Linked DNA regions of Homo sapiens. The protein of the gene in region 1 purifies or fractionates together with the protein of each later gene. This does not show direct contact. Each region holds a gene or a part of one and is shown in the gene's direction. Other genes may lie near its edges.

What was found.
Region 2: the proteins of SP2 (region 1) and SHTN1 purify together in Homo sapiens (affinity purification with mass spectrometry; one large-scale study listed by BioGRID and IntAct). This does not show direct contact.
Region 3: the proteins of SP2 (region 1) and HMGA2 purify together in Homo sapiens (affinity purification with mass spectrometry; one large-scale study listed by BioGRID and IntAct). This does not show direct contact.

The regions. Positions count from the first base shown.
Region 1 is NC_000017.11:47,913,170-47,916,823, forward strand, and holds part of SP2 (transcription factor Sp2), read left to right. Parts: intron 1-1,556; exon of another isoform or gene 1,557-1,692; intron 1,693-2,142; coding exon 2,143-2,219; intron 2,220-2,986; coding exon 2,987-3,654. UniProt on the Homo sapiens protein: Binds to GC box promoters elements and selectively activates mRNA synthesis from genes that contain functional recognition sites.
Region 2 is NC_000010.11:116,925,151-116,928,804, reverse strand, and holds part of SHTN1 (shootin-1), read left to right. Parts: intron 1-913; coding exon 914-1,013; intron 1,014-3,654. UniProt on the Homo sapiens protein: Involved in the generation of internal asymmetric signals required for neuronal polarization and neurite outgrowth.
Region 3 is NC_000012.12:65,837,921-65,841,574, forward strand, and holds part of HMGA2 (high mobility group protein HMGI-C), read left to right. Parts: intron 1-598; coding exon 599-649; intron 650-3,654.

The DNA.
Region 1 (3,654 bases):
TCCTCTTTTTGCCAAATTCCTTACAAGGACTCAACCCCTGCGCCTTTTTGTTTGTTTTTTTTTTAAGAGATGGGGTCTTGCTATGTTGCCCAGGCAGGAGTGTTTTGGCTATTCACAGGTGTGATAATAGGGCACTGCAGCCTCAAATTCCTGGCCTCAAGTGATCCTTCCATCTCAGCCTTCCAAGCAGAATGCATCCTGAGCCTTTTTGTCTCTTTTAGTCTTTAAAGTAATACCCCTCTTATTTCTGTACTTACTGAAATCTGCTTTCCAGAGGTCCAGGATTGAAGTCTGACTCTGCCTGGTGTTCTTTTCCTTAGTGATTTATGCACTTTAAGATGGTATAGATTCTTTCTCCTAAAATTCTCATGACTTTCGTTTTCCTGATACTGTGTTTCTTTCTTTTTAAAAAATTTTTATTAGGGACGGGGTCTAACTGTGTTGCTTAGGCTGGTCTTGAACTCCTGGGTTCAAGCGATCTTCCCACCTCGGCTTCCCAAAGTGTTAGGATTACATGCATGAGCTACTGTACCTAGCCTCTTTTGGATGACTTAAGTGCACAGTAGAGAGTCCCTTCATTACTTCCTCAACCTTATTTTTCTTTATTTAAGAAAAAAAGTACAGTAGAATATATTTATCATGGGAAAATGAAAAAGTACAGAAAACCAAGGTGCAAAATAAGTTTAAGTCAAACAAAACTCAACCGCTAGGAGATAATGGCTTAAGACTTTTTCCTATTTGATTATATTCATATATAGAAATATATACACATTTAAACAAAAATAGAATTTACTCTGTTTTCATTCTCCTTGTTATATCCAGTTAGTCATTAGCTCTACTGAGTCTTGGTTGATGCCTGTGGGGCCGTGCCTATTGTACTATGTAAAAGCGTAAATTCAAGTAAAGAATTGACCCATGAGGCCAGGGATGGTGGCTCACGCCTGTAATCCCAACACTTTGGGAGACTGAGGCAGGTGGATCACCTGAGGTCAGGAGTTTGAGAACAGCCTGACCAACATGGTGAAACCCTGTCTCTACTAAAAATACAAAAATTAGCTGGGCATGGTGGTACATGCCTGTAATCCTAGCTACTCAGGAGGCTGAGACAGGAGAATCACTTGAACCTGGGAGGTGGAGGTTGCAATGAGCCAGGATCGTGCCATTGCACTCCAGCCTGGGCAACAAGAGTGAAACTCCTTCTCAAAAAAAAAAAAAAAGAATTGACCCATGTGCTGTATATGCTGCCTGGGGACAACGGCCTTTGTGGTGAAGGCTGAGCATAAAACACCCAAGACTTGGCAGTGGAGCAGGTGTGTCCTCCTTGTCAGAAATCTTGGCTGAGCGATACTTCCCTCCCAGTTTTGGCATCTGTCTACAGCAGGAGTGAACAGGAGGCTTGAGTTTGAGCTAGAGGATTAGCTGGGGAGCTCCCCCCTGCCCACCATAGAGGAGTTCCAGTTTAGCTATGGAGAGCCAGCAGTGCCCAGCAGAGAGGGCATAGCTGAGTTACAGAAGAGAGTCCTGGTATAATCTTGGTTATTTTTGTGTTATCTCAGACTCTGTGGTGGCTGGAGGGGGCAGTCCAACGACAGCAGGACCAGCTGTCCTCACAGCCTCAGATGGCTGAGTCTGAGGAGAGGAGAGGAGAAAGTAATCTACTGAAATAGATGTAAGGCTATCAACCCAGGGTGGGTAAGTCTGGGGAAAAGTCATTAACTTCCCTTGGAGAAGCAGCAACAAATAGAGGCAAAAAGAAAATCTGGCTGGGTGCAATGGCTTATGTCTGTAATCCCAGCACTTTGGGAAGCCAAGGCGGGTGGATCACCTGAAGACAGGAATTCGAGATCAGTCTGGACAACATTGTGAAACCTCTGTCTCTACTAAAAATACAAAAATTAGCTGGGCATGGTGGCAGCGCCTGTAATCCCAGCTACTCAGAAGGCTGAGGCAGGAGAATTGCTTGAACTTGGAAGGGGGAGGTTGCCGTGAGCCTAGATCATGCCACTACACTCCAGCCTGGGCAACAAGAGCAAAAATTCCGTCTCAAAAAAAAAAAAATAGAAAAAAAGAAAATCTGAGGCAAGTGGGCTTGCGTTCTTTTTGGGCATTTTATACATTACTCCATCTCTTTTCTTCCAACAGATCCACAGACCAGCATGGCTGCCACTGCTGCTGTGAGTCCCAGTGACTACCTGCAGCCTGCCGCCTCCACCACCCAGGCGAGTAGGCAGTGGGCTCCGAGGGCTTGGGGCTGCAGCATCCTGGACAGACTCACCGAAAACACTCTCTCTTCACTGTCTCACTATAAATACCCTAGGTTATGAGACTGGGGAAGGTTCAGTTAGCCACATTTTCTTTACTGAGAAACTATGGCCATTTACCTAAGGTGCCGCAGTTGGGCCAGGGGGAAAAACAAGGATTAAACTCTGTGTTCCTTCCACCAGACCTCACTAAAAAAGGAAAAGGAAAACAGAGGCTTTCTCATTGTCTCGAAAGTGTAGCCCTCCCCAGTCTATAAAGTTACATGTTCCGAGTACTAAAAAGCACTTTACTGAAGTATTTATTCCTCCTGTTGCCCCTCCATTTTTTCCTCCCTCCTTTCCTCAGTTGAGCAATCAGGGACCCCTCAGTCCCTGGGGTGGGCTAACAAACTCCATCTGAGAGCCAAACATGCTTCACTGTCCTTAGAAACAAGGCCAGCGGAGAGTAGGAAGTCAGCTCGTGCTGTTAGTTTACCCTGTCTGTGGGGTGCTGCCAGGGGTTCCTTCCTGAGAAAGACATTGCCCACCTTTTCTCCCTCACTTAATGGAGAAACCAGTAGAGAAGGGGAGACAGCAGCCAAGCAGGGGAGGGTACTGGCAACATGCCTGCCCCGGAGGTGGGGAAGACTGGCGTGGAATGCCGCCAGGAGGAGAGGATCATGGACAGAGGCGGCCGGGCAGCGGGCCTTCCTGTCTCACTCCTTTTCTCTGCTGTTTTTTTGCAGGACTCCCAGCCATCTCCCTTAGCCCTGCTTGCTGCAACATGTAGCAAAATTGGCCCTCCAGCAGTTGAAGCTGCTGTGACACCTCCTGCTCCCCCACAGCCCACACCGCGGAAACTTGTCCCTATCAAACCTGCCCCTCTCCCTCTCAGCCCCGGCAAGAATAGCTTTGGAATCTTGTCCTCCAAAGGAAATATACTTCAGATTCAGGGGTCACAACTGAGCGCCTCCTATCCTGGAGGGCAGCTGGTGTTCGCTATCCAGAATCCCACCATGATCAACAAAGGGACCCGATCAAATGCCAATATCCAGTACCAGGCGGTCCCTCAGATTCAGGCAAGCAATTCCCAAACCATCCAAGTACAGCCCAATCTCACCAACCAGATCCAGATCATCCCTGGCACCAACCAAGCCATCATCACCCCCTCACCGTCCAGTCACAAGCCTGTCCCCATCAAGCCAGCCCCCATCCAGAAGTCGAGTACGACCACCACCCCCGTGCAGAGCGGGGCCAATGTGGTGAAGCTGACAGGTGGGGGCGGCAATGTGACGCTCACTCTGCCCGTCAACAACCTTGTGAACGCCAGTGACACCGGGGCCCCTACTCAGCTCCTCACTGAAAGCCCCCCAACCCCGCTGTCTAAGACTAACAAGAAAGCAAGGAAGAAGAG
Region 2 (3,654 bases), on another chromosome or scaffold:
AACTCAGATTCCCCTTGGAGGGATAGGTGCATGCACATAAAAAGACTAGAGGATTCTCAGTTTTGGAGAGCATAGCCCACACTGCCTATTTAAGTGTTGAGGGTAAATACAAATGGACAGATCCCTGAGGGTACACTCAGTCGGGGAAAGTGGAATGGCTGTGGATGGGGAGAGCTACCTCTGAGTGCCAACAGTATGCAGCACCTTTTACCCATTATCTCATAGGTATTAGCACCTGTGATATCAACTTAAGTTCAGTTCTTTGAAGTCAGGTGTTACGTCTCCTGTAGCACCATTCATAGGCACTTTCACATCATTGGTGCTTAGTAAAATGCCTTCCTCATGAAAGACTTGAAGGAATACGATACATTTCCAGAAATCTCTTCAAAAGAGCAAAAAGTTTCTGAGTTACAGATTTAGGAAGCTGAATCTGGTTAAAATCAAAGACTCTAGTATTTGCAGTTTTTGAAGGAAATTAAGCAGGGGAGAGAAGTATGCAGCTATTAAATTTCATTACTAAATGTCATCTTTAAAATTAATTCTTGGTCTGTACACTTTTAAAGTATTAACAATTTCTTAGTGTTTGAGTCATATACTTCGTTGTTAACAAATATTTCTTCAGCCTACTCCTTCCTACCCTTCAGCCATTGTTTTTAATTTTTTTCTTTTCTAAAGTTGTATATACAGCAAAAAGATAACATTTAATATTGATGGATAGGAGTCCTCTCTTGCATTAGCAATAGACTAGATAGTGAAAAGTTTAAAAAGGTCTGTAATTTCATATTGAAATTTCTAATTTTGCCTTAATAAAAAGAACTTACTTTTGAGAAAGGTTATGTTCTTTTTTTCACATGTATAAACAATGTTTAGTTGCTTATTTCAGCTCTCTTCTGAATGTTTGCTCTCTGTGCAGTTGATGAACTCCAGAAACGAGTGAACCAGTCTGAGAATTCAGTACCTCCACCACCTCCTCCTCCACCACCACTTCCCCCTCCACCTCCCAATCCTATCCGGTAAGCACATCCAGGAAGACTGCTCTGCATCAAATGTTCTTCTCCATCAGATTGTGCCATAAGAGGAGTCATCTTAAAAGCATGAAAGATACTAGCTGATGCTTCTCTTGGAAATTTTTCTAAAGGCCAGTGATATGGTTTGGTTGTGTCCCCACCCAAATTTCCTCTTGAATTGTAGCTCCCACAATTCTCACGTATCGTGGGAGGTAATTGAATCATGAGGGTGGGTCTTTCCATGCTATTCTCATGATAGTGAATCTCATGAGATCTGATGGTTTTATAAAGAGGAGTTCTCCTGCACAAGTTCTCTCTTCCCTGCTGCCATGTAAGATGTGACTTGCTTCTCCTTGCCTTCCGCCATGATTGTGAGGCCTCCCCAGCCATGTGGAACTGTGAGTCAATTAAACCTCTTTCCTTTATAATTACCGAGTCTCGGGTATATCTTTATTAGCAGCATGAGAATGGCCTAACAAGCCAATATATTATTCCCTTCTTGTAGTATACAAATTTCATTCAATAACATTAAGATTTCCTTTAATGGTAAGAACAAGGAATTTTGAGCTTTTCCAGAATGTGTTTACTTTTCTGTCTTGCTAATTCAAATTTGAAAAGCTGTGGTTTGTTCAATTATTTTAAAAATAAAAATACTAAATGAAAACGTAAACATGCTAATTGTTATAAACTAGTAATTAAACTAGAAGTATTAATTACTTTTATCCCTAACCTCATATTTATACCTTTAGTAATGCTAAGAGAGGAACCGTCCATAAGAAAGATAGATTATGTTTAAATTCTTGTGGCAGGAAGTCACATATGCAGACAGGAATTCGTATTTTCTGAAGCCTAAGGTGACATGATGGCATTATGTACATCACTTGAGCACAATACACACTAGGAGATTTAGAGTCAAATTTTGCCTTTTTTGTGGTTCCACATGCCACCATCTAGAATTACATAAGACAACCTCCTTGCCATGGTGACAGCTTACATGCTCATGTCATGATGTTAGCTGCTTTTGTATAATTTATTCTTTAACAAATGGCATTTTAAAACTTTTTCTAGGGTTTTTTTTTTTTTTAAACCTTTCATTAACTCATGTGATTTGTTTAATCCTTTCACACAGAGAGGCCATTTATTCATACTTTGCACCTTTGCTGATCCATCTGAATAGAATGCGTAGCATGTTCCTCCCACACAACTATGAAAATGGGACTTTGCCTTTTAAAAAGATTCTCATTAGTTTTCCTTACTGAGTAGGGTATGACATAATCTACTTTAAGCCATTGAAGTAGTTAAGGCAAAATAATTTTTACACGTGATCGATCCAAGAGTCAATTGAAAGAATTTCAGGTATTTTAAAATCTTTCTCTCCTGGGTAGCTAAATCTGTAGGAGATATTCTGGATTTGACATTTAAAATTGGAAATTCATCACTTTGATCTTTCTCTAAGGTCTGGGATTTTGAGCTGATAAGAAAGGTCACTTCTGTCCATGAAGAGGGAGAACGATTAAAAAGTAATTACAGTCTTGCTGTTGGCCTTTAATTTTTATTCTCAGAAATGTTGAGAGCCCCTAGAATTAAAAGTAAAGTATAACCTAAGTAGAATTTTTTTTCCCAAAGAGCACTTTACAGTTACGCTGAGAAACGAATGTTCAGGACTATTTGTGTCTCAAGTGTGAACTCTTTTATAAGGCTCTTTAAAGAAAATTTTATTGAATAATATGATTTTTATTTTAAGATGAATTTAAATAGTATAGGACATAATTTTTTAAAGAAAAGAGTTTTTTTTTTGTGAGGAGTGCTTTCTTGTCAAAGAGGTATATTTGCACATGTATTGAGTTTGAGTGGATTTTGAATTCACAAATCAAAGTTTTCTAACTTTGTTCCTGATCTATTTGTTTTATCCTGATGTAAATCATGGTTAGAAATGAAAGTGGGAAGAAAAAAAAAGACTAGGGCCTGTAGCTTAAGTGGCTTACTGCTTTTCCCTTCTCTTCCCACTCATTTGACTCCAAGAATAGATAGAAGAAAGAGGAAGAAGGCAAACCTTGGTCACTTTGTCCCAGTGGTAGTGAAAGTAGGACAGGTTCTATGCAGATATAGTTCATGGGGAGAGGGTTGAGGCTATTAAGTGCTTTTTTTAGAGAAACAGAACCAATAGAATGTGTATATCTATAGATACAGATATAGGCAGATATAAATACAGATTTATTATAAGGAGTTGGCTCATGTGATTATGGAGGCTGTCAAACCCCAAGATCTGTAGGGTGAGTTGGCAACTTGGACACCCAAAAGTGTCAATGGTGTGGTTCCAGGCTGAGTCTAAGGGCCTGAGAACTGGGAGAACCTATGGTGTAGTTTTATTCCAAAGTTTGACAGGCTCAAGACCCAGGAAGTGGCAGTGTTTCAGTTCAAGTTCGAAAGCAAGAAAAAGCCAATAACCCAGTTAGAAGGCAGTCAGGCAGGAGGAATTCCCTGTTAGTTGAGGGAGGATCAGCCTTGTTGTTCTAATTAGGCCTTCAAATGATTGGCTGAGGGCCACCCACCTCAGGGAGGACCATCTGCTTTACTCAGTCTACTGATTGAAATGTTAATGTCATCCACAACATCCTCATGGAAACACCAGAATAGTGTTTAACCA
Region 3 (3,654 bases), on another chromosome or scaffold:
CAGGTGATTGTTTCAGGCAAGGAACATTAAATTAAACATGTAGAAGTGTGCAAATATTTGTTATTTTGAATTAGAATGCTTGTGTATTCTTTTTCACATTTATACTTGCTTTTGACTACCAATATAGGTAGAAGAGCTTTGTAAATTGTAAAGTAATATGTCAATATTAATTTTTGCAACTTTAGTTGTGACATGGAAAGAATCTTGATCATCTTAAGAAATATTAATTTTCTAAAATACTAACTTATGTAGTTACAGAATGTGGGGATAATGTTTTTAATATGGACAGAAATAAAAGCAAAATAGCTTTTGAAAAAGCATTTTCATGTATTTCAGAAGAGATCACTACAGGGGGTGTCTTTTAGGGCGAGGGGTTGCATAGATACCTCTTTACATCATGCAATGAAGAAGAATCTACTCAGAAATGTGGAAAAAGATTAACCTTAGAGGAGACGAAGTTTGTTAAAAAAAACAAAAAAAAAAAAACCGATACGTCATCTGCAAAGCAGAACATTCTTACTTCAAATGTGTCCCTTGGTGCAGTACTTATAAACAATGTCAGGTAGAAAACTATAATGACTTCCTTTTTCATTTGCAGAAAGCAGAAGCCACTGGAGAAAAACGGCCAAGAGGCAGACCTAGGAAATGGGTGAGTAATAAGATATAATTTTTCTTCTTTTTTTTAAAGAAAAATTTCTGTTGTATTAAATGAGAAAAGTTTTATTTCGTCGATTACATGAATTTCCAACTTCTGGTTTGATGAATCTTTGAAAGGGTTAAGTCAAGAGACAAATTATCATCACTTCCTACCACTAGGCTCCAGGTGTTTACGTAGAACACTTTTCTTTCCTGAAGGTGGACTCATTTTTCTATCTCTTATCAACATCAAAAGAGGCTCCACTCTTCCTTCAAATAGGGTAACAATGAGATGATTTGTTCAGTAGATTGAGTAACTAAAGTTAAAGGGTATTATGAAGCCTTGGAAGTTGATTACAAATGGTGTTAAAATTCATACACAATGTGTATGTGATAACTTTTTAACGTTTTTCTTTTTTCTTTTTCTTTCTTTTTCTTTTTCTTTTTTTTTTTTGGTTTTCTCCATGGCTTTTGTTTGGACACATCTCATTTTCTAGATGGTTTGTGTTTTCTTTTTCACATGGCTTTGTTAGGAAGCAAGGGTTTATTTTGAGTTTTTCTTGCTTCCCTTAGTAGTCATTCTCCACATGCAAACATTAGAGATAGCTGTATCCATACAAGTGCACCTGATCCTATAGGCACACAGATCCTGTATCTTTTGAGGCCAGAAATTCAGTGGTCACTGAAGAGCTTTGCTAATTTTACTGCTTGAACTTTGTTCCCTTGTTTGCTGTGTTACCCATGTTCTTCTGGTCTGTCTTTCCCACTGACGGAGAAAAGAAGTCCTAAAAATGAATGAAATCGTTTCTCAAGAAGGATGAGGGCATCCTTTATACCCAGTGTTGCATATGATGGGTTCTTTGGCTTTGCTTTTTCCTCTTCCTCAATTCTTTCTTCATGCTTCAAATTTTAAAAAGATTTTTTTTTTCTGTTATGCTGGATTATATGTTCCTGTTTGCCATTCCTTTCTCCTCTAGAGTTCTGCATCACTTTCTATTTATACTTTGGTATTGCCTTTCTTTTAATTTATTCATCTTATATTTTTCCTCTGCTCAACATGTGTTGGGATTAGATTTCTTAGCATAAGGAAATGGGATGATCTTTAGATGAAAAACATCTCAGTGTTAAAATGTGACCTTAAAGTAAGGATATTTCATTCAACCTTCTGTTCATTAAATTAGTTCTCTCCAAACCTACTTATCAAGTGGTGATCATCTAGCGTGCTTGATTACCTTTAAAGTTAGGGAACTTGCTACCTCTCAAGGCTGCCTCTTTCTTCTAGGAAAGCTCTGCACATTAGAAAATTGTTCCATCTGACTACCTGTAACTTCCGTCCACTGTCTCTAGGTCATCCTTCTGGGAATATATAGAGTAATTGTTTTCACTTTCACTCATGATAGCCCTGCAAACGGTTGAGGGCAATTAACACATACTGTTTGTATGTATCTGTGTTTGTATGTAACACATACTCCAGTTTTCTCATTTTTTCCCCATAAAGGAACATTCTTGTTATTCTTTTCTGAACATGTTTGTTCGTTAATCTTTTGAAAGATGTCACCTAGAACTAAATATCATATTTCAAGTGTGGGTTCCATAAACAGTGGGTTTATCACCTTCCTTGTTGTACATATGGTTCCAGTTATCGATTGCTGCATAGTTAACCACTCTAAAACTTAATAGTGTAAAAAAACTATTTTATTATGCATATGGATTCTTTGGGTCAAGGATAGGCAGGGTAGAGCAGAAAGTCTTGTCTCTGCTCCATGATGTCTGGGGCCTCCACTGGGAAGACTCAAGCATCAGGGGATGACTTTAATACTTGGGATCCAGAATCTGGAGCTGTTTCACTTACAAATCTGGTGCTTTATCAAGATTGGCTGGAAATCTGGGCGGATCTGGGAGTGCGTGCACTGGATCACCCATACATGGCCTCCCCAGGATAATCAGGCTTCTTACATGCACTCAGGACTACCTCTGGGAATTTTCTGGTAACTGAGGAGGAAGCTGCAAGGCCTTTTTTGCCTTAGACTCGGAAGTCAAAAACTGCTGCTTCCATTATACTCTAATGAGCACATTGTTGACTAAGTTGATACTGGCATACATATCAAATAGAGATCTGCTGTTTTCTAAGCATCAGAACTCTGAAAGGACATCCCATACCATTGAACTAATTAATAAGAAAGACGTGTATAATCTTTCTAATAGGCAACATAATAGAAAATAGATGAGTTCTTTGAAGCCATGGGATTAATGTGGCTAAAATGAAATTAAATTGCAAGCGAATACAGTGGCAGTTAACCAGCAAACTAACCTCCATCATATGGGGCCTCTTAACTCTCTCAGCCTTTCATCTCCTCTGCCCTTGGGCTGTCCTATAATGGTCACCAATTCACCTCCATAGGTTAGAGTCCTGTCTTCTCCGAACCTTCCTATGGCTCCACATCTGGCCAGCTAGTTAATTACAGCCTGCCCTAGTACTTCGAAGTCATTCAGTTTACATCTACCTTTCTTTACAGTTTTCTTTCTCACCACACATCCTTAAACAGTTGATGATTCAGCCAAGCAGGAGTAAACTATAGAGCAATTAAAGGATATATATGTTTTTTTTCTTAACGGATTCTTGCTAATTTAGGGGGGATCTGGATTTCAGGCATCAGATCTTCCTGCTGGGTAAGAAGCACATGTGAGGCCCCCACCACAGAAATCCTTGCCTTTCTGAGAATAGCTGGGCCATTTTCTTTGACTCTCCTGGTTTCTAATTTTTACTGGCTGTGAGAATGGAAAATATTATGTGGTGAATTGTTACAAGTCCCTGATTTGGTCCCCAAAGAAGAGTTGTTCTACTGAGAAGAGGAAATAAAAGGAAATTGTATATTTTTTCTAGACAGTGTGTTTCCTCTTTGCTTGTATATCTTCTGTTGGGTAGAGTATGCAGCCAGTCACAGCAAGGCATTCCGTTCAATGGCATTCTTTGCTGGAAAGCTTGTGCTGAAGAAATAAATCATTGCGTTTTCCATA